Linked DNA regions of Homo sapiens: regions 1, 2, 3 and 5 are each reported to be linked to region 4. The links are microRNA targets in miRTarBase. Many come from high-throughput screens and were not tested one by one. Region 4 holds a microRNA gene; each other region holds the end of a gene's coding sequence.
What was found. Region 4 holds the annotated microRNA hsa-miR-671-5p (AGGAAGCCCUGGAGGGGCUGGAG, at 2,177-2,199, opposite strand). A microRNA usually pairs through its seed, bases 2 to 8, with sites in the 3' UTR of a target mRNA and lowers its output. Matches are read on the target gene's strand: a 7mer-m8 pairs with bases 2 to 8, a 7mer-A1 pairs with bases 2 to 7 and ends in A, and an 8mer does both.

Region 1: miRTarBase lists ASAH2 as a target of hsa-miR-671-5p. The part of its 3' UTR that is shown has no 7-base or 8-base seed match.
Region 2: the mRNA of ZNF442 is a reported target of hsa-miR-671-5p. Seed matches in the 3' UTR shown: 8mer at 2,886-2,893.
Region 3: the mRNA of CPNE2 is a reported target of hsa-miR-671-5p. Seed matches in the 3' UTR shown: 7mer-m8 at 4,184-4,190, 7mer-A1 at 4,155-4,161 and 7mer-m8 at 4,139-4,145.
Region 5: miRTarBase lists NDUFAF3 as a target of hsa-miR-671-5p. Seed matches in the 3' UTR shown: 7mer-m8 at 4,609-4,615.

What each region holds. Positions count from the first base shown.
Region 1 is chr10:50,182,565-50,187,692 of GRCh38, forward strand. ASAH2 (N-acylsphingosine amidohydrolase 2) reads right to left here. Exons shown (of 21, transcript NM_019893.4): 21 at 2,297-4,940. The coding sequence ends at 4,751. Among named protein-coding and RNA genes, the nearest start is that of ASAH2, 66 kb to the right of the region's middle.
Region 2 is chr19:12,344,894-12,350,016 of GRCh38, forward strand. It overlaps ZNF442 (zinc finger protein 442), which reads right to left. Exons shown (of 6, transcript NM_030824.3): 6 at 1,051-5,123. The coding sequence ends at 4,808. It also overlaps a transcript of ZNF563 not described here. Among named protein-coding and RNA genes, the nearest start is that of ZNF563, 14 kb to the left of the region's middle.
Region 3 is chr16:57,147,007-57,152,006 of GRCh38, reverse strand. CPNE2 (copine 2) reads right to left here. Exons shown (of 16, transcript NM_152727.6): 16 at 3,638-4,456. The coding sequence ends at 4,349. Among named protein-coding and RNA genes, the nearest start is that of PSME3IP1, 37 kb to the left of the region's middle. RefSeq lists an enhancer at 1,285-2,074 and a silencer at 4,016-4,310.
Region 4 is chr7:151,235,520-151,240,647 of GRCh38, reverse strand. It overlaps MIR671 (microRNA 671), which reads right to left and starts at 2,227; the gene lies at 2,110-2,227. CHPF2 (chondroitin polymerizing factor 2) reads right to left here. Exons shown (of 4, transcript NM_019015.3): 2 at 5,036-5,128; 3 at 4,058-4,240; 4 at 1,826-3,274. The coding sequence ends at 1,967. SMARCD3 (SWI/SNF related BAF chromatin remodeling complex subunit D3) reads left to right here. Exons shown (of 13, transcript NM_001003801.2): 9 at 126-223; 10 at 401-536; 11 at 902-1,024; 12 at 1,151-1,252; 13 at 1,492-1,868. The coding sequence ends at 1,545. LOC124901779 (a long non-coding RNA gene) reads right to left here and starts at 987. Exons shown (of 2, transcript XR_007060596.1): 1 at 896-987; 2 at 1-629. RefSeq lists enhancers at 1-1,097, 4,797-5,128.
Region 5 is chr3:49,022,720-49,027,823 of GRCh38, reverse strand. It overlaps NDUFAF3 (NADH:ubiquinone oxidoreductase complex assembly factor 3), which reads right to left. Exons shown (of 5, transcript NM_199069.2): 3 at 5,056-5,104; 4 at 4,848-4,948; 5 at 4,329-4,768. The coding sequence ends at 4,652. IMPDH2 (inosine monophosphate dehydrogenase 2) reads left to right here. Exons shown (of 14, transcript NM_000884.3): 5 at 1-114; 6 at 777-864; 7 at 938-1,137; 8 at 1,215-1,305; 9 at 1,405-1,500; 10 at 2,555-2,698; 11 at 2,784-2,928; 12 at 3,022-3,165; 13 at 3,246-3,329; 14 at 3,420-3,499. The coding sequence ends at 3,441. Among named protein-coding and RNA genes, the nearest start is that of NDUFAF3, 3.2 kb to the right of the region's middle. RefSeq lists a silencer at 2,417-2,556.

The sequences.
Region 1 (5,128 bases), not on the chromosome of region 4:
GGTCTTCATTGGTTATACTTGCCATTTTAGCAGGTACAACAAACAAACAAACAAAAAACAAAAGAAATCATAGATTTGGAAATATGAAATTGACATAAGCAAAAGAAGTCTCTTAATAAATTCAATTCCATGGGTTTGTCTATGGACAGGTTTATAGCCCTGAAGACAGAAGGATGACACTAAGTGGTACTGGAAACTGGGAGTCAAGGTAAGTTTTTGGTTATAGAAAGTGTATTTTATTATTAGAGCAAATGGCAAATACATTCAAGGACATTGATGTTATAGGGGAAGAGTCTCAAGGGGGAAAAATGCTAATACAAGTATAAAACCAAATTGCTATTTATGAAGGTAAAGTTTGGTGCTGCCTCACTGTCAACTCTTTCCTTATACTCTAACTATAGTCTTGATAAAGTACTCAATATTCCCTCTACATGGAATAGTCTATTTGCCCAGTACACAAACACAAACACACACTAATACACACATACATGCACACACCATTGCCTTTCTTCTAGCTAATTTCTACATGTCTTTTAAGTCTTAGCTTATATGTTATTTCTTCCAGGAAACTTACTGAAACATCCCCAAGACCATATTAGGTGCCCTCTCTAATTCCCTGAACAATAACAATATGGGTCACTCTGTACAGTAATTACCTGTTCATCTGTTTGCTTTGTTCGTTAAACGCTAAGTTCCTTTTGGCAGGGAATAGCTTTGCCTTCATTATTGTTTCATTCTTAGGATTTAGCATAATTTCTGCCATAAAGTATATAGGTGCTTGATATAAATCTGTTAAAGTAACGTATACATTTTGCAATACAGAAAGCAATTTTTTTCGTCATTATTCCAATGTGTGTTCTTTTCCAAAATATATTTTCTAGAGTAAAACGAGTTCTAATTATTTCAAAGAGCAGTTAATTTGGATATGCAGATATTATTGCTTGCCCACTGTGGTAACCTTTAGGGCTGCTTGCAAATATCCTGGTTCTGTCACCTGCCCAGTGAAAAATGCACAGTAATGTGGAAGCTTCACGAACTATTGCATGATTCTCCCTGTCCCTTCCCCCTAATCATGGAAGCACCTGTTCCTGTTCCCTCACAATGGAAGAATGTTTAGAATGGAAGTCTCTGTCAGCCTGTGAACTCAAATGAGATGTGGAACAGATCCTTCAGCTAACCCCAATGGACAGGTCATGAGATCAAGAAATAAATCTCTAATGTTGTAGCATAACTAATCTGTCTTGACTAACATAATTTTATGACAGCTACTTCGGCTATCTCTTCTTTCTTACTATCAGAACTTGCCTCACTCTCTAGAAGCACAAAATACTAAATATTCTTTTTTCCAGCTTCCCTTGCAGGTAAGAGTAGCTGTGTGGCACAGTTCTGAACAAAGAAATAGAAGGAAAATTCAACTTGTGTTCTTACTATTTTCCACCTTCTAAAAGGGGATTATAAAGAGAACTCTCTCCTCCCATTTTGCTGCTGCATTCAATTATATGTAGACTTGAGGTAGCGATCTTTTAGCTAAGAGGATAAGCCTAAGAATTAAGTCAATATATTAAGAAGAGCCACTGAGTGGCTGCACCAAACCTGAATTTATCACTTCAAGACTTACTGCTATGTGAGGTTATAAATGTCTTTAGTGTTTGGATGGATGTTGATCAGGAATATTTTCTGAGTTACAGCTGAATGCATACTAACAAATTGCATAAGGAATGTGCAAATTTCCCTCTCCGATACCCTATCACTCTAAAATTTTGGAAGCCAATATAAACCAGCAAGTCAGGTTGGATACCCAGGAAGCAAGAGCATCATTTGGAAGAACTAAACACATGAGAAGTTCATCTAGTGATGAAACCTTTTGGCTAAAGATAGAATCCATGCGCTAATCTTAGAAAAAGACAGTAAGCTTGCTTACATTGGAGGAGAAGCATAAGAGGGCACATTAGAAAAGGACATTCATAAGTAAATTCATTCTTGGTCTTTTTGTTCAGAATTAGCGCATGAAACAATTTCATAGTTAGCTACCTGCCTAGGAAATTTTTTTGCCCAACTAGTAAAAAAGAGAAAGAAAATAAAAGAATTGTCAACCATACATGTGTTTTACCAGCAGTACATCTTCAGAAGTTAGAAAGGAACTGATAAAGAAGTGGTTCCCTTGTGCTTCAGTGGTTATTTACAAGTCATTTGTATCACTTTCCAACCTAACTTACATGTAATCTACCACCTTTTGTTCCACCTCTTTTTTTAAAAAAGTGTTCGTTTGTCTACATTACCTTTCATTAGACAATACTTTTATGAGTGTAATTCTTAATTTATTATTAAATAATCCATTGAATATTGACAATTTTACACAGTACTCATCAAAAAATCTAGACCTGGAAAAGAGATTATTCAGTGCTTTTCAAAGAAGTCAAAAAATCCTTAAAACCAGAGTAGGCAGGGTACAGCAAATAAAATGCAGACATTTTAACATGAGAAACAAAATCTCCAAAATTGTTCTCCTACCTACCCAATCTGCCATATTCCACTTTTTCCACCAATTTCAGGAGTTTCTGCCACATGGTTTGGCTCCAGTGAGCCAGTCCCTGCAGCATCCACAGACATGAATTGGATCTGTGTTTTTATATCAACAGATAAGTTCAATTACTTCATGATATTCTTTTATGCACAGGTAAAGAACTGATATTGATAATCCAGGAATTTGGTTTTATTTTTACACATGAACTGCGAACATAGAACTGCATGCCCTAGAAGAAATGACAGCTGGTGAGAAAATAGGTTTCTGTGCGTTATCTGGAGCCAAGAGTGCTAGGTGCAGTAGGATCAGTAGATGATACAGTGGCCACCTTGGTACAGTTGCCAGTGAGCTATCAGGAATCACAAGTAGATTTGAGGAAAGCTTCAATAGAAGGAATAGAGGTAGTGGAAACTGATTCATGAACCCTTCTGAGTAATAACAAATACTTTAAAAAACCATATCATAAGTTCTAATATAATTTTCTTGTCTGGAATCAGCTACTTTCAGGATCACTTGTTCTTTTAGGCTTCTGAACTTTTACACTGAAGACTGTGGCATCATCAGAAAAAAGATCACAACACTTGGAATCCCTGATTACCTAATCCTCCAGCAGTTAATGCCCAAGGAAACAGCCTCTAGGATACCAATTCATCAAAAAGTGTTCCAGGTTCATTCTAATTCAATAAATTATGTTGAGATTAAGTTATACATAATAGATGTTAATACTACCATTATGAATATTGTTATTATTTTCAAACCTCAAAGTTTATTTTTAAAATACAGATTGATTTTTTTCCCTAAAATGCTAAAGCTTTTACATACATACAAAAGTATGACCTGGGGTTTGGAAATTTGCTTTGCAGTCTGGGAGGTTGTAGTTAACTTAAAGAATTTTAAATGCAATTAGTACTTTCAGACAATCGATGTCAGACTGTCATATCTTATTCTTTGGGGTATGAAGCAAGGTATTTTACAATGCCCAAAAATAACTTTCAAAATAGTATTTAGCAAACTGTCTGGAGCCTCTTTCCCCCCAAATTAGAGTATCCAACACAGATGATACACAAGATATAACTTGAAGATTACTGATTTTTTAAATGCTTCCCCAGAATTTACATATTAAATCGATTATTTTCTCCTTCATAATAGTTACCTTTTGACACTTACACATTCACCCCAAGTACAAATTCACTAATTATCAAGGCCTAGGCACTATTATAATTCTGGGCATATAAATCTTAAATATTCTATGATTGAATGGGTCCATGAGTGAGTGAGTGAGCAAATGGTAAAAGAACAGATAAATTAATTTAGAACCTCTGCTTTGAGGAGTGCTTTCCCAGCCAGTAATATTTTTAATATCTACACTAATGGCAAAACTTTCTGGTTTGGGGTGAATTTGATTAATGAAAAGAGTCAAAAAATCATTTGGAATAAGTCTTGGGAGTAAGAGACACAATCCAGTGGGATAAGGACACTTAGGAAAACACAAGGCATGATCAAAATATTGGAAGTCTGACTTTCTCATAATTGTGTCCTGAAGGCAATTCCAGAAATGATTTGAGCATCCACAGCGGCTCTGAACTAGGCATGTTAACTCCAGAATGACTGCTTAGAAAGACTATGTTATTTTGAATGAAGGAAAACTGACATGCTGATTTTCTGTTTCTCTAATTAGGCTCATACATTCATGGTCAAGGTTTATATCATATTTTGTAAATGTGATTAGAAGAAAAGACCATTTTTCTTATATGTAAGATGAAGGGTAAGACTAGATGATTTCTATAAATTTTCCCAGTACTAATATTCAGTAATTCTATATATAAATAAATAATTTAAACATTGTTCACATTAGTGAGCCATTCTCACTAATATTTCAGAGGTTTTATATTGAAGGGACTCTCCTTTAAACAACCCCAAGACTTCAAGGGAAATCATGCTTTAGGCTGTAGACCACAAGATATATGGCTGCTGGAGCAAGATATATGGGACAAACCTCTCTCTCTCTCTCTCTCTCTCTCTCTCTCTCTCACACACACACACACACACACACACACACACACACACACACACACCCCTCCACCCCATTAGCAGTAAACTATCTGTCCCCAAACAGGGACGATTATAGAAGTCAACATGGTAGTTCACTAGTTCACATTCATTTGAAATCACTTATATAATGTGTAGAGAGTAAAGCTGTTCTTTAAATGATCTATCAACTTTTCACTAAATAGTTACAACTTCAAAAGCCGGGGAAGTGCCTTCAAATGAAAGTATGACAGCAGGCTTCAGAATGTCCTGCTTCCGATTGTGTCCAAAATATCTTATTCTGTAGATTCCAGGCTGGGCAGTGTCTGGAATATGCCATTCCACTGTTGCATTACTCAGACCCAGGAGTCCCTTGTGCCAATAAAAACTGTTGATAAAAAACAAACAAGCAAGCAAAACTCAATTTTACTCTTAAAAATGTTTAATTAGAAAAATACATGATTATTCATTTAATGAATATTCAGAGAATACCTACAATGAGCAAGGCACTATCAAGACATTGAAGATACAGCAATGAACAAAACAGACAAAAACGTCTATTTTCTAGAAGAGAAA
Region 2 (5,123 bases), not on the chromosome of region 4:
ATACACAAAAATCAGCTGCTAACAATGAATAAACAATAGACTAACAATGAATAAACAATCCAAAAAGAAAATTAAGAAAATAATTTTAGTTATAAAAGCATCAAAAAAAGTAAAACACTTAAAAATAAATGAAACCAAGAAATCAGTGATGTGTACATTGAAAACTACAAAACATTCTTGAAGCAAATTAAGGAAGATAAATGAATGGAAAGATATCCCATGTTCATGGATTCCAAGACTTACTATTGCTAAGATTAAAATACTACCAAAATCAATCTACAGAATCAATGTGATCCCTATAGAAATCCTAACAGCTTCTTATACAGAAATAGAAAAGCCTATTCTAAAATTCACTTCAAATCTCTAGGGATCTCTAATACCAAAACAATCTTGAAAAAGAACAATGTTGAAGAATTCACACTGCCTTATTTCAAAACTTACTACAAAGCTACAGTGATCAAAACAGTATGGTACTGGCATAAAGACAAACAGATAGGCCAATGGAATAGAGTAGACAGCCTAGAAATAAATGCTCATATACAGGGTGAAATGATTTTTGACAACAGTGCCAAGACCGTTCTTTGGTAGAAGGACAATCTTTCAAAAAATGGTGTTGGGAAAACTGGATATCTACATGCAAATAATAAAAGTGAACCATCACATTACATCATGTATAAATAGTAACTTATATTTAATCAAAGACCTATACTTAAAAGCTAAAACTATAAAATACTTAGAAGAGCCTGGGTACAGTGGCTCATGGCTGTAATCCCAGCACTTTGGGAGGCCGAGCAGATCACTTGAGGTCAGGAATTGGAGACCAGCCTGGCCAACATGGTTAAACTCTGTCCCTACTAAAAATACAAAATTTAGACAGGCGTGGTGGTGGGTGCCTATAATCCCAGCTACTTGACTACTTGGGAGGCTGAGGCATGAGAATCACTTGAACCTGAGGTGGAGGTTGCAGTAAGTCAAGATCATGCCTCTGCACTCCAGCCTGGGTGACAGAGGGAGAAAAAAAAATTACTTAGCAGAAAACATAGGGGAAAATTTTGTTAAATTTGGCAGTGATTTATTGGATACGACATTTAAGGCACAGACAACCAATAAAAGATAAACTGGACTACATCGAAATTAAAAACTTTTGCGCACCAAAGGACAATCTCAAGATGAAAAGAAAACCTACAGAAAGGGAGAACACATCTGCATATCACATATCAAATAAGGGCTTAATACCCACAGTGTATAAAGAATTCCTACAACTCTCTTCCAAGCACTTGGGAGCTGAAAAAAGAAAGAAATTTTCTAAATATTAAAAACTAAAAATTTTAAATAAGAATTCCTATAACTCAACAACAAAACACAAATGACTCAATTTTAATGAGCAAAGGATTTTAAAACAAACTGGTTCAAAAAATATATAAACAACCAACAAAAACAAAAACCAATGTGCATTATTATTGGTCATTAGGGAAATGCAAATCAAAACCACAATGAAAAAGCAGTACAGAACCATTAATTGGCTATTATGAAAAAAATACGACAACCAGTATATGTGACAATGTGGAAAATAGAAACCCTTATGCATTGCTGGAGAGAATGTAAAACATTGTAGCCACTTTGTAAAGCAATATACCTGTTCCTGAAAAAGGTTTACACCAATTATTCTGTGAACCAGCAATTACACTCCTAGGGATACATATATCCAAAAGAATTGAAAGCAGGGACTCACACAGACATAGACATACCACATCCACAGCAGCCTTATTGATAGCAGTCAAATTATTACTGTGGAAACAACCCATGTTTATCAACATAAAAATGGATAAACAAAGTATGCTTTAACCATACAGTGGAAATTTATTCAGACACAAAAACAATGAGTTCCTGATACATGCTACCACATGGATAAACCTTGAAAACGTTCTAAGTGAAATAAGCCAGACATGGAAGGACACATGCATACTTCCACATATCTCTCTCTCTATGAATAGTCAAATTCACAGACAGAGAAAGTAGAATGGAGATTTTCAGTACTTTGGGATAGGATGGAATAGGTAATTACATGTATGGAACACTAAGTAGATAGAGCAAGTAGCACAGTAACACGTATAAAATGATCCCTTCCTTTGTGTATTCTAGTTTGTACCAGCACTGTAAGAGGCTTCCAGATGAGCAGTTCCAGTGGTTAATGTTGGTAGTTCAAAGGGTAACACTGCCCTCTAGGCAACATCGTGGAGGTCTATTTGAGATATATTTCACTACAAGTTATTCTCATGAATACTTCAATGAAACAGCTCTTATCAAGGCCCCCAGTGACCAAATACTTGCCAAAATCTACAGTCAACCCTTTTTCCTTGTCTTATTCAAATTCTCAGTGACCTGTGACACAGCTGACCACTCTCCCCATATTGAAATACCTTCTTCTGGAGGCTTCCAGGAGAAGAAACCCATGTTTTCCTCCTACTACTTCATTGGGTGTTGGAAACCATTATGGAGTGAGGAAGTCAATGATTTCAGGAGCTTCTCCACTATTGATGAAGTATCAGGAATATCTCAAATGCTGCAAGGGAGGTTGGTGGGGAAAACAATCTATGACATGCTTGAAGACTTTATTGAGGAACACATTGACAGGACAAGAGCACCGCCATCTTTATAACACTCCACCATCCTAAGCTTTAAGTTTCTATTTGGCCACCTGGCCAAAACTGAAAATGTCAGCCCCGCCCATAACTTCAACAGAGAATAACGGCCCTAACTGTAACAGAACAGCCAGGACTTCCCCAACCCCTCCCTAACAGAATTTTGTTTCAAAGCACACTTCTCCACTGGGCCCTTTAAAAAAGCCTCAGGCTGTAAGAGAAGTTTGCACCTGACCCTGCCGCTGGAAGCCCTTCTCAGGTTTACTCCCAATAAAACTGTCTCAACTGTTGAGCCACCTTCTCATCTCTCCTTTCCTTAATCTTTCTATCCCAACACAAATAAGAGAGCATAAATACTAACAAGGAACTCGAAGATATACTGAAATTCTCTGCAGATAATGATGATAATGATGATGCAGAAGACTTAGAAGAGGTAATATCAAAGATGTGACACTTGAAACATGTGCAGCAGTTTTTGGGGCATCTACAGCCTCTGCAAGGTGAAAAGTATTAAAGATTACAATCCTCGCAGGGCACGGTGGCTCATGCCTGTAATCTCAGCACTTTGGGAGGCCGAGGCAGGTGGATCACCTGAGGTCAGGAGTTCGAGACCAGCCTGACCAACATGGTGAAACCCCATCTCTACTAAAAATAAAAATTAGCCAGGCATGGTGGCGAGTGCCTGTAATCCCAGCTACTCTGGAGGCTGAGGCAGGAGAATCGCTTGAATCTGGGAGGTGGAGGTTGCAGTGAGTCGAGATCGCGCCACTGCACTCCAGACTGGGCAATAAGAACGAAACTCAGTCTCAAATGATAAATAAATAAATAAAAATAAAAATAAAATAAAGATTGCCATCCTCAAGTAAGATCCTTCAATGGAACAAAACCTCTGTGTCACCCAAGGGATAACATGCCAACAAACACTGCAAGGATATTTAAAGAAAAAGAACCAGCTTCCTACAACAATGTTTCTAACTAAATATCTGCAAATATGAAGACAGATCCTTCAGTGTGTACACATCTTCAGCCCTCATGCTGAACAGATTCTGACATTAGTATTATTTAGTCTCTTCCAAACTCAGCATCTGCAATCAGAACCTGGTTCATCCAACACAGATGATCATCCTGACATCCTGTCAAGATTCAAGTGAGCCTGATGTCTCACTGTTTATCTACAGTGCCACCCATCTAGTCACCTCAGTGAATCATATTAGGCACCATACTGTAATCAGCATCATCATGATCATGATCATCATCATCATCCTTGGGTTATCAAGCAAGAAGGATCAGGATTTTCATAAGTGTTAACACACGATTCCAGGTCATTAAATAAAAGCAATCTATGATTGTTGAAAAAAAAGAAACTGTAGATTACAGGCTCATGCCTGTAATCCCAGCACTTTGGGAGACCAAGGCAGGCAGATCATCTGAGGTCAGGAGTTCGAGACCAGCCTGACCAATATGATGAAACCCCGTCTCTACTAAAAATACAAAAAAAAAAAAAAAAAAAAAAAAATTAGCTGGGTGTGGTGGCATGCATCTGTAATCCCAGCTACTCAGGAGGCTAAGACAGGAGAATTGCTTGAACCCGGGAGGCAGAGGATGCAGTGAGCTGAGATTGTGCCATTGCCCTCCAGCCTGGGCAATAAGAGTGAAACTCTGTCTTAAAAAAAAAAAAAAGAAAAAAAGAAACTGTAACATTCTAGGTGACATGTACTATGTAGGCAGGCCTGTGATGGTTGGGTCTGTTCTCAACAGCACAGGATTATTTTCATATCACGATTCTCTAAAAAAAATACAATAAAATGACTGTTTACATAGCTTTTACAACACATGAGGTATTTTAGTAACCTACTTTTTATTTTTACTTTTACAAAAGCTTTGGGTTGGTGAAAAATTAAGTAATCTAGGCATGATTTATGGGATGCAGGAGGATGTGGATAGGTTACATGCAAATGTCCTTTTATAAAAGGAACACAGCATCTGTGGATTTAGGTATGCTTAGGGGGTCTGGAACCAATCCCCTGCATATGGTTAGGGGATAACCATATTCAAAAGAAACATCTTAAGGCTTTACCATGTGTTTGCATTCATGAGGCTTATCTCCTATGTGATTTCTTTCACGTTTCTGAAATGAAATAAAATTAATGAATGCTTTTCCACATTTATAGAGTATCTCTCCAGTGAGTCCTTTTATGTCTATGCAAGGAACTGAGAGAACTCAGTGCCTTCCCACATTCCTTACATTCATGCATCTTCTCTCCAGTGTGAGTTTTTTCATGTCCTCGAAGGAAACGAGAACGAGTGAAGGCTTTACCACATTGTTGACATTCATAAGATTTCTTTCCAGTGTGAATTCTTTCATGTCGCAGAAGGCAAGTGAGCCAAGAGAATGCTTTCCTGCATTCCTTACATTCATATGGCTTCTCTCCAGTGTGAATCCTTTCATGGACTTTTAAGTTACCAAAATGACTGAAGGCT
Region 3 (5,000 bases), not on the chromosome of region 4:
CTTACAATTCTCCAGCCATGTGAGGGAGAAAGCTAATAGGAATCCTACTGCCACCTCTATATGGGGAGGATTATCTAGCTTGTGTCACCCACCTGGGTGGAAAATGAGTGTGATATTCAAAGCGTCTATTTTTCCATCTGTAAAAACCAGGGAAACTGATACGACTAGACCGAAAAAGGTGGCTGGCTACCTACTTGTGTATATCTTCCCTGAATCTAAGGATGCAAGAGACTGAGAGCTGGCTCCCCAAATCCAGAGGGGTGGGGCGGAGGGGGGCTTCAGCTTTTTTCAGAATCATTCTGGACTGGGAGTCAGGAGGCCCTAAGTCGGGTGACTTAGTGCCAGGCATCCTCATTTCTTTCACTCTAGCTCCTGAGTTCTTCCTGTCTGGCTTCCTCCTTCCCACCCAAGAGAGGAGCTTCATTTGCCTAAGCCCTTCCCCACTGTTTCTGCTGCTCCTCCCTGGGAACTCAGCCTAGTTCCACCATAGTGGTTATGAGTTAGGAGCCAGCTGTGACTAGCTGTGTCACTTGGGCAAGGTTAGTGTGACCTCTCTGGACCTCACTTTCCTCCTTGGTAAATAGGAATAACACTACCAATTTCCTAGGGAGATAGAGATAACCTAGATTAGGTGCTAGGTGTGCGGTATCAGACACACAGTGTTTAGTAAATGGTGGCCACCCTCAGTGCTGTTACCATCAGCCCTCCCTTTTTTCTGGGTGGCATAGCCAGAGCTTCCATTATTGGTGATTTATGCAGGTTTATCCATTCCACTGGCATTCCTCAGTTGCAGCTAGAACACTGGCATGGGTGAAGGGTCAGATCTGGTCGTCAAAGCTCCAACCACCAGCTTTTGCTGTATGCTTCCCTTTTGGCTAAATGTTAATTGCTTAGGCACACCCGGTTCCTTGGCGCGGTTGTCCTAGCCGTGGGTATATGGCTCAGCTGTCATCTTAGGCCCCTCCAGAAAAACAGCTCCATGGCAGTGCAGATTATCTGGACTTGGGTATTTTCTTGGTTTTCTGGCATGCCCAACCCACTTAGGCGTCACAGGATGGAATGCAAGTTCTGCTCAGTGGGAGGCTAGGATCTTGGCAACACTTTTGTAGTCACAGGTTGAACACAGAAACCAGTCACACATTTGTGCTTTAGTGACACTGGCAAGGGCTGACATTTTGCTCCCTTACCTGCTGGAGCAGCGGTTCGGAGAGAGAGGGAGCCTCACAGTGGTAACGGCAGAACATGGCCCCAGCATCAGAGCTTTGCAGAGGGGAGAGGCAGAAAAACAGAGGGACAGCCATTCACCTGTGCTTTATACTGCAAGCTGGTCTTCCATTACTATTTTAGTAATAGTCATGTACATCATTGCTTGTGTTGGTTTCTTTCATTCAGTGTATACTGAGAGCTTGCTATGTATATGCCAGGGTGTTAGGGGCATTTGTGCGTTATTTTTGTGGACTCTAGTGTCTTTCATTCTGGGGGAAAAAAGTCCTGTGAAGCAGCCCTTCTCTATATTTTACAGGAAATCAGAATTCCTAGGAGCTCAATGGCTTGTCTGAGGTTGCATAGCTAAGTGACAGAACCAGAATTTTCATTTGAACCAGAATTTTCATTTGAGCCTTTAAGTCTGGCTTTCTGTGGTTTCAGTGAAACTTCTAAACAAATGCCAGTGCCCAGGCCTCCGTGGAAGGGATTCAAGGGTAAAGGAGTCTTTCTGGCTGGATTTCCAAGTTCACTTTTCAGCCTGCTATCCATGTGCAGGAACCAAGTAGCAGCACCAAAGCTTGGATTTTTACAAAAGTGATTTGGAGCCAGGCGCCGTGACTCATGTCTGTAATCCTAGCACTTTGGGAGGCCGAGGCAGGTGGATCACTTGAGGTCAGGAGTTCGAGAACAGCCTGACCAACATGGTGAAATTCCATCTCTACTAAAAATACAAAAATTAGTCAGGCAAGGTGGCGTGCGCCTGTAGTTCCAACTACTTGGGAGGCTGAGGCAGGAGAATCACTTGAACCCAGGAGGCGGAGGCTAAGTGAGCTGAGATTGTGCCACTGCACTCCAGCCTGGGTGACAGAGTGAGACTCTGTCTCAAAAATAAGAAAATAAAAAGTGATTTGGTTGGCCTTGTCAAGAGTTTAGACAAACTCTTTAGACAAGAGTTTAGACAAGTTTGTGAACTGAAGCCAGCTAGGAATAAAGGGCCTGCTTGACTTACCCACCGTTAGGCAGAGAAGGGGCAGACAGCAGAGATGGCTGGATCTGCCCCCACATGAAGCCTGGATGTGGGGACCACGGCCACCACACCTGAGGAAGTGATCTGAGAGTGGGAGCATGTGGGACAGACCCCCACTGCAAGGCCAGGGCTTCGCCTTCACGTGGCCCAGTGGACGGCAGTCTCCCTAGTTTCACCAAGCTCGTAAGCCGCTCCCACGGGAAGGTGTAAGGGAGGAGTGGGATTCCACCCATGTTGCTGGCCTGGGGGCCAGTGCACTGGAGTTTTCCAAAGGACAGTCTGCAAATCAGAGCTCTGTGCAGTCCTGCGGCCCTCTTGAGAGAAGTGTCCCTAACAGATCCTTCAGCTGACTCTTGGTGTCCACAGAATCAGCAGCGGCACCAGAAGCTTAGGATGAAGGTATCCCTTACTTGCTCCCACCAGAAAAACTCTGGCTGGAGCTTACCAGGCACTAAGAGGTGGGAATCTACCTGCTGCGGTGCCCAATCCTAGCAGGCCCTAGTAAGAATTACTGGCCAGAAGAGTAGATGGGGACAAATGACTTTCCAATTTCAGTGGCACAGAGTGACAAATTCATTAGCAGCTTGAGCAGAAGAACCCCATCCAGAGCCAAGGGAAGGCATTCAATGCAGTGGAGCAAGTGTGGGCCATGAGGTAGCCAGACTTGGGTATGAGGCCTGGCTCTGCCTCTAGTAGACTTGATTCGCTTCTCTGCTTGTCTCCTCATCTCTGAAATGGTCACCGTCAGGAGCTATTGGAAGGGTTCACCAAGATAGTGCTTGCAGCCTGGGCAACATGGCGAAACTCCATGTCTACAAAAATTAGCTGGGCGTGGGGGTGCATGCCTGTGTTCCAGCTACTCGTGAGGCTGAGGTGGGAGGACTGCTTGAGCCCACAAGGTTGAGGCTGCAGTGAGCCGAGATCACACCACTGCACTCCAGCCTGGGTGGGACAGAGTGAGACCCTGTCTCAGAAAAAGTGCCTGCAAAATACTGAACACGGAGCTGGAAACAAAGTGCTTAATAGGAGGGTTAGCTGTTACTGGTTACACGGAAGCCCGTGTCCAGGGGGCTTACCTGGAGGTCCAAGCGGGAGTCAGGTGGATAAAGGAGAAAGAGGTGTTATGTGGAATAAAGGAGGGACCTGGGAGCGGGGCTGAACTTTCAGAGAGGGGTCCTCTGGCTGGTTTCATAAAACTGGGCCTGAGCCTAGAGAGGGGGATGTGGAAGAAACAGCAGGGTCAGAAGCAGCCCCATTTTGGGTCCTGAGGCCAGAGAGGCTTTCACAGACCTCTAGGTGGCCAACCCAAACACCCGGGAGACCCAAGGAGGAGCAGATGGGTGGCTGGGACTGCTGTCCAGTTGTGGGGTAGGGATATGTCAGAAACTGGTATGGGCCTGCACATTCATTCTATTCATCCATGAATATTTATTGAGTTTGTACAATGTGCCAGGTTCTGTGCCAGTTTAACAGGTTATCACTGTTAACTGGCAGTGATTTAACAGGTTATCATCTGGAATGCATGTCCCCATGCAGAAGTGACTACACCAACTTATTAGACTTGTGGGGTGGATTTTCATTTTCCATTTCCTTTCTTAGATCAGTGAGCCCGTCAGGTCCCTGCTGAGGAAGGAGCTGACGCAGGGACGTCTGAAACTCATTTGTTACCCTGAGCATATAACAAATAGAACACAGTCACAGTATTAAAAAAACAGCAGGAATTAATTAGGTGCAGGCTACGACACGTATGCACCAAGGACATGTTTCTTTCATCAGAGTCTGCAGCTAGTTACTTGGAAAAAGCCAGTTATGATTGTAAAAATTTTATTCTCAATAACAATTCCACTAAAATTATACAAAGTACATTCAATACTTAAGAATGGCAAAGGTGGGGAGAGGAGGAGAGGAAGCCAGTTTGGCCTGGAAGCATCAACAGTTGACTCCAACAAAGGAAGCCCAGCTGGGCTGGAGGAAGTTGGGGGTGGAGGTCCGGTTGTAAAAAATAAAAAAGGGGATCGGTAAAAAAAGGCCACCCACAAGGAAGCAGAGTGAGCGTGCATGTTCCTGGGGGAGGGCAGGAGGCTCAGCTGACATGCTGCTGCTGGGCACTGGAGCTCAGGCGGGCTCCGAGTTGGTGGGGGGCAGGTTTTTATGCTTGAAATACTGCACAACTTGTTGGGGCAGCTCCGCCAGCACAGCTTTGGCCAAGGTCTCTTTTGCTGCCTGCAGGGTGGAGGAGGGTGGGGTGGGGAAGAGAGAGAATAAGGATTAATGACCGGAAGTTGTGAGCGGCACTATGCCCAGAGGGCTGCTACAGCAGGTGTCCATTGAGGACAAAATTAGGGCTGCGGGCCAGGGCTGTCTGCAAGTGGCATCCCTCATCTCAGCCCAGGCCAGGCCTGAAATTCCCCCTGATCGCAGTGCCTTCCTTTAGGTTAGGTGTAAGTGTTACCTGGAGCACTTGAGATGCTTGGGAGTAACGGGTTAGGATGACTCCGTCTGCGGGAAGCACCTATGTGTCCGGCAAACATCTCCTGAGCACCTTCTTGGCGGGAATAAATGGGCCTGACAGTATGGTTCACTAGTGAACAGCCAGCCACAGGCCAGGCACATGGAGGTACTCGGTCACCGACCTGTGCATGAAGGGGTGACCGATGCCCAGGGTTTGTCCTTAGGAAGCGAATGCTCCAGAGGAAGGAGTAGAACCATCGCAGGCAACCCCAGAGGATGCTGGGAAGAGAGGTGAGGGCCACTGGGTGCAAACCAG
Region 4 (5,128 bases):
ATGCGCACTGAGGAATCAGACTTCCTCTCAGCTTCTTGTGGCCTTTCTAGAACAAAAGGATCTACAACTGCATGATGATCTCTTCAAGAAGAGTGATCTCTCTCTCCCCAATTGTCCTGCTTCAGATTTTTGATTGTCCCCGGCTGAAGTTTTCTGAGATTCCCCAGCGCCTCACAGCCCTGCTATTGCCCCCTGACCCAATTGTCATCAACCATGTCATCAGGTGAGGTGGCCCCAGCTTGCTTCTCAGACCAGGGAATGATCTCGTTCCTGCCTTCCCTGCCCCTCCCTCTCCTCCCACTCCCATCTCTTCTCCCTCCCTGTTGGATCTGCCCCAGCCCCGGGGCCCTGGGGCCGTATGGGGGCATCGTGGACACGAAGGGCTGGACTTCCCTGGCAGCGTGGACCCTTCAGACCAGAAGAAGACGGCGTGCTATGACATTGACGTGGAGGTGGAGGAGCCATTAAAGGGGCAGATGAGCAGCTTCCTCCTATCCACGGCCAACCAGCAGGAGATCAGTGCTCTGGACAGTAAGGTGGGGCCCAAGCCCAGAGCTGGAGTGGGACATTAACCCAGAGATGATAGAGGAGACTTTTCTGAGACCAGGGTGTGGTTGCAGATGAGCAGTCTGGGTTAAATTAAAAAAAAAAAAAAAAAAGAGACCAGACTCTGGGCCAATGGGACACACATGGCCCGTCCATGCTGCTTGGAGCTGAACCTCATTCCAAGTTTAGTTCTGCCCATCCCCTCCTCCCCTGGGACTTCAGAGAAATCAGGGGCTCTGAGGGGTTGTCCTTCACAGAAGAAACCCCCTCTCCCTCCCCTTCCCACCCGCTTCCTTTCCCCTCGTCTCCCACATCACCAAAGCCAGGTGGAAAGCATCTATCTTTCTACCTGCAGATCCATGAGACGATTGAGTCCATAAACCAGCTCAAGATCCAGAGGGACTTCATGCTAAGCTTCTCCAGAGACCCCAAAGGCTATGTCCAAGACCTGCTCCGCTCCCAGAGCCGGGACCTCAAGGTGAAGAGGGAGACTCAGGGAGTACTGGAGTGGAAGACAAGCACAGCGGGAAAGAGAGTAAACGTTGTACTCCAGGGGCAGGTGAGGGGATTCAGGGCTCAGGGCTCACCCCACGCTCCCTCCCAGGTGATGACAGATGTAGCCGGCAACCCTGAAGAGGAGCGCCGGGCTGAGTTCTACCACCAGCCCTGGTCCCAGGAGGCCGTCAGTCGCTACTTCTACTGCAAGGTATGCAGGGACCCTTGCCCTGAGGCTTCCCCATCCTCAACTCCAAGAGAAACCTCCCTGTTCAGCTTGTGGGCAGCCCTCGCAGCTCCCCACAGTAAAGCTTCACCACGCTGCCTCACCATGCAATGGCCCTCCCTGCTCCCAGATGCTCTTTCAGGGCAGGCGGTGTCAGTAGGTGGGATTGTCCTGATCACTCACCAGAACACTGACACCTGCTCCTGTTCTCACTTCCTCTAAAGATCCAGCAGCGCAGGCAGGAGCTGGAGCAGTCGCTGGTTGTGCGCAACACCTAGGAGCCCAAAAATAAGCAGCACGACGGAACTTTCAGCCGTGTCCCGGGCCCCAGCATTTTGCCCCGGGCTCCAGCATCACTCCTCTGCCACCTTGGGGTGTGGGGCTGGATTAAAAGTCATTCATCTGACAGCAGCCGTGTGGTCATTGGAAACTGGGGAGGGGAGGGGGAGAGAAGGGGAAGGGAAGAAGGTGGGGAGGCAGTGGGTCCCTCGGGACGACTCCCCATTCCCTTCCCTTGGATTCTTCTCCTTACTCAATTTTCCCTAGACCTAAAAACAGTTTGGCAGAAGACATGTTTAATAACATTTTCATATTTAAAAAATACAGCAACAATTCTCTATCTGTCCACCATCTTGCCTTGCCCTTCCTGGGGCTGAGGCAGACAAAGGAAAGGTAATGAGGTTAGGGCCCCCAGGCGGGCTAAGTGCTATTGGCCTGCTCCTGCTCAAAGAGAGCCATAGCCAGCTGGGCACGGCCCCCTAGCCCCTCCAGGTTGCTGAGGCGGCAGCGGTGGTAGAGTTCTTCACTGAGCCGTGGGCTGCAGTCTCGCAGGGAGAACTTCTGCACCAGCCCTGGCTCTACGGCCCGAAAGAGGTGGAGCCCTGAGAACCGGAGGAAAACATCCATCACCTCCAGCCCCTCCAGGGCTTCCTCCTCTTCCTGGCCTGCCAGTTCACCTGCCAGCCGGGCTCGGGCCGCCAGGTAGTCAGCGTTGTAGAAGCAGCCCTCCGCAGAAGCCTGCCGGTCAAATCTCCCCCCTATAGGAGCCCCCCGGGAGGGGTCAGCACCAGGAGGGGAGGGGGGGTCAGGGCCAGCCCCCGGGGGCCCTGGGGGTGATCTCTGTGGTGACAGGGCAGGATTGAACTCCTGGAAATGGACTGGAAAGAAGGCCTGCCAGCCAGAGATGGCATTCATGCGACAGCGGTTGAGGACTTCGGGCCCAGGCCTTGTCCACACGGTGGTAAGGAAGAAGAGAGTGTCCACAGGGTGCTTCTTCGAGACCACGTCCATGAGTCGCACCTGGGAAGGGGCCTCTGCTCGCACAGCGAGCCAGGCCAGCCTCGTCCCAGGGTACCGTCGCTCTAACTCCGCTGCTGCAGCCTTCACCCCAAGAAATGGGTCTGGAGCTCCACGGCCACCTTCTCGTGGCCCGTAGACCAGCAACAGGGTGAGCAATGCATGTTCTCGTGGCTCCAGGACATTGGCTGCAAAGGCCTCGAGGAAAGCCGGGGCTGCAGCAGCTTCAGCCACCAGGAGTGGCAGCACCAGCTGCACTCGGGTGGCCTCAGTGACATAGGGCATAGGTAGGATTTCCACCCGGCTCAGTGGCCGCAGCAGGCTGACCCTGCGAGCCAGGGCCCGCCGGTGCCCACGCTGTGTCACACATTCCAACAGCAGGTCCAGGGTGTACTCCATGCCCCGTGCTGGGTCGAAGCGCCGATAGCCGTTGAGCAGTCGCTGCTTCTGGAAGCGCAGGCGGGGCTGATAGCGCCGATTGAGCTGCTCCAGGGCAGTCTCCAACGCATCACCCACGTCCGCCCTGCTAGCCCCCTGTAGTGGGCACTTGGGAGCCCCATCTGCACAGGAGAAGGTGTGCTGCTCTGTGAAGTAGTCCCAGCCCAGCACCTCAAAGCGAGAGTGTGGTGTGAAAGGAGCAGGGAGCCCAACGGGCCAGCTCAGCCCTGCCTCCCCTTCGGGGGTCAGCACGGTCAGGTTCCGGATCTGAGCCTGGGTTGGAGGGAATGCACCTCACATTAGTGCCAGCTCCAGGATCCTACCCAGCTCCAGCTGCCTGGGCTCTGAGATTCAAACAGCTGAGCTCTGTCCTAACTCCATCAACACTTAGTGAGGGGTCCCTTGCTAATCACTGAATCCCTTGTACGTTATTCTTCACCTCTAAAATGCAGATGGAATAGGAATCATACTCACCTTACACAAATGCCATGAGAAGGAGGTGGAAAATGTGCTTTTTGCACAGGTAAAAGTATCTTGAAATAGAAGCTCAACAGCCTTTCTCTCCTACACCCAAAGGACTCACATCCTCTTCATAATCACACCTTTGTTTTCATCTACACTCCACCTCTGCCAAGCCTGACGTTCAACTTGAGAATTCTCCCTTCTACCCTTGGGCTTTCTTGGGACAGTTCTAGAAGTAAAGAAACTTCAGAGTTTTTGCCTCCTCAGTGGACAGGCACTATTGAGGAGGAGCTAAAACTATTCTGTCTGAACACTGTGCGGAGCTTCCTGATCCTCAGAGTCTACTTGCAAACCCCTTTAGCTGCATTCAAGTTGTGCTGGGAGCTTACCTTATGATTGCTTTGGACCCCCAAAGACCTTTGTCCCTGTAGTTGCTTTAAATTTAAGTATGGTCGGCCTCTTCCTGCCCTGCCATTATACAGGGCCTAGCCCAGCCCCACTGCCAGCTGCTCGTTCATTGCACGCCTGGACATCTCAGGCTCTCTCTGACCCTCTGACTGCGGTCCTCTGCCCACCTGCTCCTCTTCAGCTCACCTGCAGTTGTTCTATTTCACTGTAAGCCCGCTCCAACTCCAGAGCGCTGAAGCGTTTGTGGAGCCGGTACATGAGGGTACCTTCGGAGACAGGGTGCACGGCGAAGGCACTCAGGAAAGCCGAGCTCCCTTCCTTCTCAGGGTCCCTATTTTTGGCCAGTTCAAATGAGCGATACTGCTGCCCCTAGAGGGACAATCAGACCAATCAATGACACACACAAGAGCTGCCAGTCCCAAACCGCCCTTAACCATACTCAGTGTTCACATCTGTTAGCACTGCTGCGTTAGAACAGAGGACAGAAGAGGCACCCTTTCCAGCACCTCGCTTAACCCCAGTTCTTTCACTGCCCACATTTTGGAAAGTAGAAAGCAAGTAGGCAACTAAGGACACTCTCGGCTACTCTCAGTGCATTGCTTACAGGCTAGCCCTGCTCTGCAAGGAGCCATCACAGAAATAACATATTAAAAATAATAATAATGATACTTTCTTCCCCCAAAGATTCCCATTGTTCTTCAAGGGAATGAATGACACAAGCCAGAAAATCCTCCCAATACTTTGGTTTGAGAGGATGAGCCACCTCTGGGTTCTTCCACTCTTCTCCAGCACAAGAAACAGGGCAGCTCTCTGGGCTGGAAAAGTGATCACCTCACTTCTCTGGAGACTAGCCATCTCTAAGACATGCCCACACTGCCATAACTGAAGTGTGGATGTCGGGGGAGGTGTGGAGGGCAGGGGGGCAGGGGAGAAGGACTGCTGAGTAGGAGCACCCTTTGGTCTTGCTTAGGGGTTCCTAACAAGATACTACTTTTGATAGCCCCAGGTTCTCAGATTGCCAAAGGTGAGCAACGGAGGGCCCACAGAGCGGCCAGTGGCCAGGAAGGGGGAACAATGGCCTCTAAGGTGCTGCTGGGAGGAAGGCCAATCACTCATCCCCCACTAGCTTATCAGGGACTGGGACTGACTTGAAAGAGCTGTCACCTGGTGCTGTGAGACACAGCCGACGCCCAGAGAGTCAATGAGGCAGCGTCCAAGCCACTCGTCAGGACGGGCACTGAGAATGTCTCCTCGGCA
Region 5 (5,104 bases), not on the chromosome of region 4:
TGCGGTATCCCAATCACAGACACAGGCCGGATGGGGAGCCGCTTGGTGGGCATCATCTCCTCCAGGGACATTGATTTTCTCAAAGAGGAGGAACATGACTGTTTCTTGGAAGAGGTGGGTGCCACTGGCAGAGTAGATCCAAGCTCTAGCAGCCCAGGTTGAAGACAAGGGGCTTCTGTTGTCTAAGACATCTCTGATAGCCTCTTCTCTCTGGGAAAGGAGTGTCAAACCAAGTTTCTGACTCCTTTATTGGGTTCCTGCATCCTTTCCCCACCAGAGGCTTTCAAACTGCCCAAATGCTTGCTAGTATTCATGCTTTGTTCTTTTAAACCCCTAAGGTAGGGGCAGTGCTTGAGGTCTGCCCTGATTTTCTTGCCATTGTTCCTGTGTTGTCCTCCTTATTCCATAGTGTAAGAGGGTGCTCCCTGTGCCATGTTGTCCTTTCTACTCATCCCTCACTCAATACCATACTGCTAAGAATTATTGGGATCCCTTGAGGAAGGGTGTTTTGGGTGTGAATGTATGAACGTGGTGGTCCATAGAACTTCACCCCTGTAATCTCAGTACTTTGGGAGACTGAGGCAGGCAAATCATGAGGTTAGGAGTTTGAGACCAGCCTGGCCAACATGGTGAAACCCCGTCTCTACTAAAAATACAAAAAATTAGTTGGGTGTGGTGGCGCGTGCCTCTGAGCTCAGCTACTTGGGAAGGAAAGAAAAGAGTTAACTGGTCATAGTCGATGACTGGCCCTTCTTCACATCTCACCTCCCACGTAGATAATGACAAAGAGGGAAGACTTGGTGGTAGCCCCTGCAGGCATCACACTGAAGGAGGCAAATGAAATTCTGCAGCGCAGCAAGAAGGGTAAGTCCTAGAGCTGGGAAAGGGCCTGGAACTAATGCCTAGGGTCCTGATTCATGTCCTGCCCTGACCACAGGAAAGTTGCCCATTGTAAATGAAGATGATGAGCTTGTGGCCATCATTGCCCGGACAGACCTGAAGAAGAATCGGGACTACCCACTAGCCTCCAAAGATGCCAAGAAACAGCTGCTGTGTGGGGCAGCCATTGGCACTCATGAGGATGACAAGTATAGGCTGGACTTGCTCGCCCAGGCTGGTGTGGATGTAGTGGTTTTGGTGAGCTGCTACACAGGTGGGTTGGGGCAATAGGGGCAGCTGCCACATCACAGTCTGAGACTTACTTCTTGTCCTAGGACTCTTCCCAGGGAAATTCCATCTTCCAGATCAATATGATCAAGTACATCAAAGACAAATACCCTAATCTCCAAGTCATTGGAGGCAATGGTAAGGCAAGATTGTGCCCTGAAGGATGTGTGGTGGGAGTGGGTAAGCTGGGCTCCCACCTTAACCTTCACATGAGCATTTTCCTTTCCTTCACCATAGTGGTCACTGCTGCCCAGGCCAAGAACCTCATTGATGCAGGTGTGGATGCCCTGCGGGTGGGCATGGGAAGTGGCTCCATCTGCATTACGCAGGAAGGTAAGAATATACTTTGATAGGGCCCACAGAGACCCCAGTTTCAGGCCCCACATACCTTGGAACCAAGCACTCTTATGGGGACAATAGAGCCCTCCAATAGGGGCAACCCTGGGGCCAAATTGGCCTCTTGGATGGGTGACATGGCTGGAAGCAAGACAAGGTCTTGTCATCCATCACCTGCCACTCCCTTGCCTAGCCTGGCCTTCTTGCTCCTGCTCTGCACCTTCTCTAAACTCTGGTCTGTTTGTTTTATTTAGTGGCTCCCAAGATCCCTCCAGACATAAAGTCCCACAGCCCCAAATGCCCTTCTACTGTCACGGGTTGCTATAGTAAGTCCAGCCCGGCCCACTGGCCCGGCCCAGCTGCCCACTGCCCGGCTGCTTGGTTGACGTAGCTGTAGCTCCCGGGGTTTGTGGTGCTGATGGGTGGGCAAGGCCAACTGATACACAGACCATGGTTTGGGGGTGGTGCTCAAGAACATAGCTCCCTCTTCCTTCTGGGGTGCTGATAGGGCAGGACCTTCTTCCCTAGGCAGGACCTTTTCTGCCCACATCTTCTGCAGTAGGCATAGTTCAGGGACCAACTCCTTTGTGTGGTCCTTGCTCTCCCACACAACCACTGCCTGCTCCACACAACCACAGCCTGCTCTCCTACACAACCACTGCCCTTATCTTGCCTGAGCTGCCCACCATTCAGGGAGGAAGGGCTGGGCCTGACCTCAGTGCCTCTGGGGACTAACTGCACGGTGACTCCTGCCCCATCTGATACCAGCTGGACGGGGGCTTTCCCGGCTGCTAAGACTGCATGTGCCTGAGGCTGCCCTGGGCACTGCACACATGCACGTGCACATGTGGGGGTGAGTAGAGGTCAGCACAGCTGTTTGTACTATTTAAGGCAGATGTGGCAGCAGCCATCCCAGACACGTCTGTTCCTCAGCCAAGCTGCAGTCCTGATGCAGATGTAGCCAAAAGCTCCTGGGTCCTAAATATGGCCACAGGGTCCACTGCCCGTCCCCATTAACCCTATCCACCCATGTGTTCCTCCATCTCAACAGTGCTGGCCTGTGGGCGGCCCCAAGCAACAGCAGTGTACAAGGTGTCAGAGTATGCACGGCGCTTTGGTGTTCCGGTCATTGCTGATGGAGGAATCCAAAATGTGGGTCATATTGCGAAAGCCTTGGCCCTTGGGGCCTCCACAGGTGAGGCCCAGTACCCGTGAAGGCCAGTGGGACCCCCTCCCTAGTGCTGCTTAGGCTCTAACCCAAGCACTCCATCTGTCCGCAGTCATGATGGGCTCTCTCCTGGCTGCCACCACTGAGGCCCCTGGTGAATACTTCTTTTCCGATGGGATCCGGCTAAAGAAATATCGCGGTATGGGTTCTCTCGATGCCATGGACAAGCACCTCAGCAGCCAGAACAGATATTTCAGGTGGGACAGGCAAGCCAGTTACCCCACCCTAATCCTGCACTGACAGTCTCATCTCTGCTGTGACCTTGCCCGTGTCTCTGCCTCTCCCTGCAGTGAAGCTGACAAAATCAAAGTGGCCCAGGGAGTGTCTGGTGCTGTGCAGGACAAAGGGTCAATCCACAAATTTGTCCCTTACCTGATTGCTGGCATCCAACACTCATGCCAGGACATTGGTGCCAAGAGCTTGACCCAAGTCCGGTGAGCTTGGGGAGCTGGGACATGGGTAGAGGGGCTGGTCCAGGGCCAGCTACCCACATTTGACCTCTGCCCTTCTTCAGAGCCATGATGTACTCTGGGGAGCTTAAGTTTGAGAAGAGAACGTCCTCAGCCCAGGTGGAAGGTGGCGTCCATAGCCTCCATTCGTAAGTCACCCTGTCCTTGGTGGGGCCTCTGCCATACCTCATGCCTCCTTTCTCCTGCCCTCACCTCACAGGTGGTCCTTCTGCCTGCAGGTATGAGAAGCGGCTTTTCTGAAAAGGGATCCAGCACACCTCCTCGGTTTTTTTTTCAATAAAAGTTTAGAAAGAAAAAAGTGATGCCTGATCTTTCAACAGACAGGTGGGGCTCTGTAGCTGCCACTACCACAGATGCACACAAAAACAGCACCCTCATTTCCAGGGGGAGCCTCAGGCCCCGAGATAAATGTGCTCCATGGACCTGGAAGCGGGTAGTTCCAGGTCCAAAAAGTTCCTCCTGAGGCTGCTCACAAAACAGCTGACTATAGCTATAGCTATGGCTCTTGGGGTTTCAGTCTCACACTGAGCATCTGACTCTGGCTCCCAAGGGGTCAAAGAACAAGCCCTGGGACTGGCATACACAGGGCATCCTGCTAGCCCATAGCTTGGCCATATAGGACCAGGTCAACACACATATATATTCCCTAACTTGAATCTCTCTCGGCCAGGCACATTGGCTCACGTCTGTAATCCCAGCACTTTGGGAGGCAGGTGGATCACTTGAGATCAGGAGTTCGAGACCATCCTGGCCAACATGGTGAACCCTTTCTCTACTAAAAATACAAAAATTAGCTGGGCGTGGTGATGCATACCTCTAGTCCCAGCTACTCAGGAGGCTGAGGCAGGAGAATCACTGAAACCCAGGAGGCGGAGGTTGCAGTGAGCTGAGACTGCGCCACTGCACTCCACCCTGGCGAAAGAGCAAGACTCATCTCCAGAAAAAAAAAAAAAAAAAAAAGCCCAGTGTAGTGGTAGGGGCCTCTAATTCCAGCTACTCAGGAGGCTGAGGCACGAGAATCGCTTGAATCCAGGAGGTGGAGGTTGTAGTGGGCCAAGATCACGCCACTGCACTGCAGCCCGGGCGACAGCGAGACTCCATCTCAAAAAAAGAAAAACAATCAGCGATTTTGTGAGAAAAGCCGTTGAGGTCCTCTCAAATCTGCATGTGAGCAAGTAGGTCTACAACAGGCAAACATACTGCTTCCCGACTTCTGAAAAGTCAAGGAATCCTAAGTAATCTAGATGAAAAAGTGACTCCTTGGTTTCTTCACATTCCCCTCCAAGAGCCCAGTGAGCCATCAGCTCCTGGCCAGCAACACACCTGATACAAAATGGGAGAAGTGTATAAATTATTATGTTGATAAGCAAGATAAGTGCCAAAGGGTAGATAAGAGTGAAAGCATTGGGAAGCCTGGCAGAGTGCAGTCAGCAGGTCAGTTCCTGGCGGTTCATTGAGCAGCTTGGCCCAAAGATGTAAGTGAAGTCCCTCCTGGTGGAGGGATGAGAGCAGCTCCAGTTACTCGGCCTTCATGACACAGGAAGTTGAAGGTGGCACAGGCATTGGGCTGCAAAGAAAAGGCCAGCATCAGCCTGTCTAGCGCCAGGCCTGTGCTCCCCGCAGCATGCCCCAGTCCCGGGACTCACCGTGTCCTGCACTTCCACAGCAATGCCCCGCTGCCTCATGGCTTGAAGCACCTGGGACTGCAGCCTCTCGGTCCGGTCTCCAGTCCCCACCACCACGATCTCTAGGGAAGGGTGGGTGTGGCTAGTCTACAGTTCTGTTGAGAGGCTGCAGTGGGGGTCGCCTTCTGGGGCCCAGAACACCTCTGTTCTCCCTCCCCTTCCCCAGTACCTATCCGGGGCTCCAGCAACCAGAAGAGGGAAAAGCTGTCTTCGGTGAT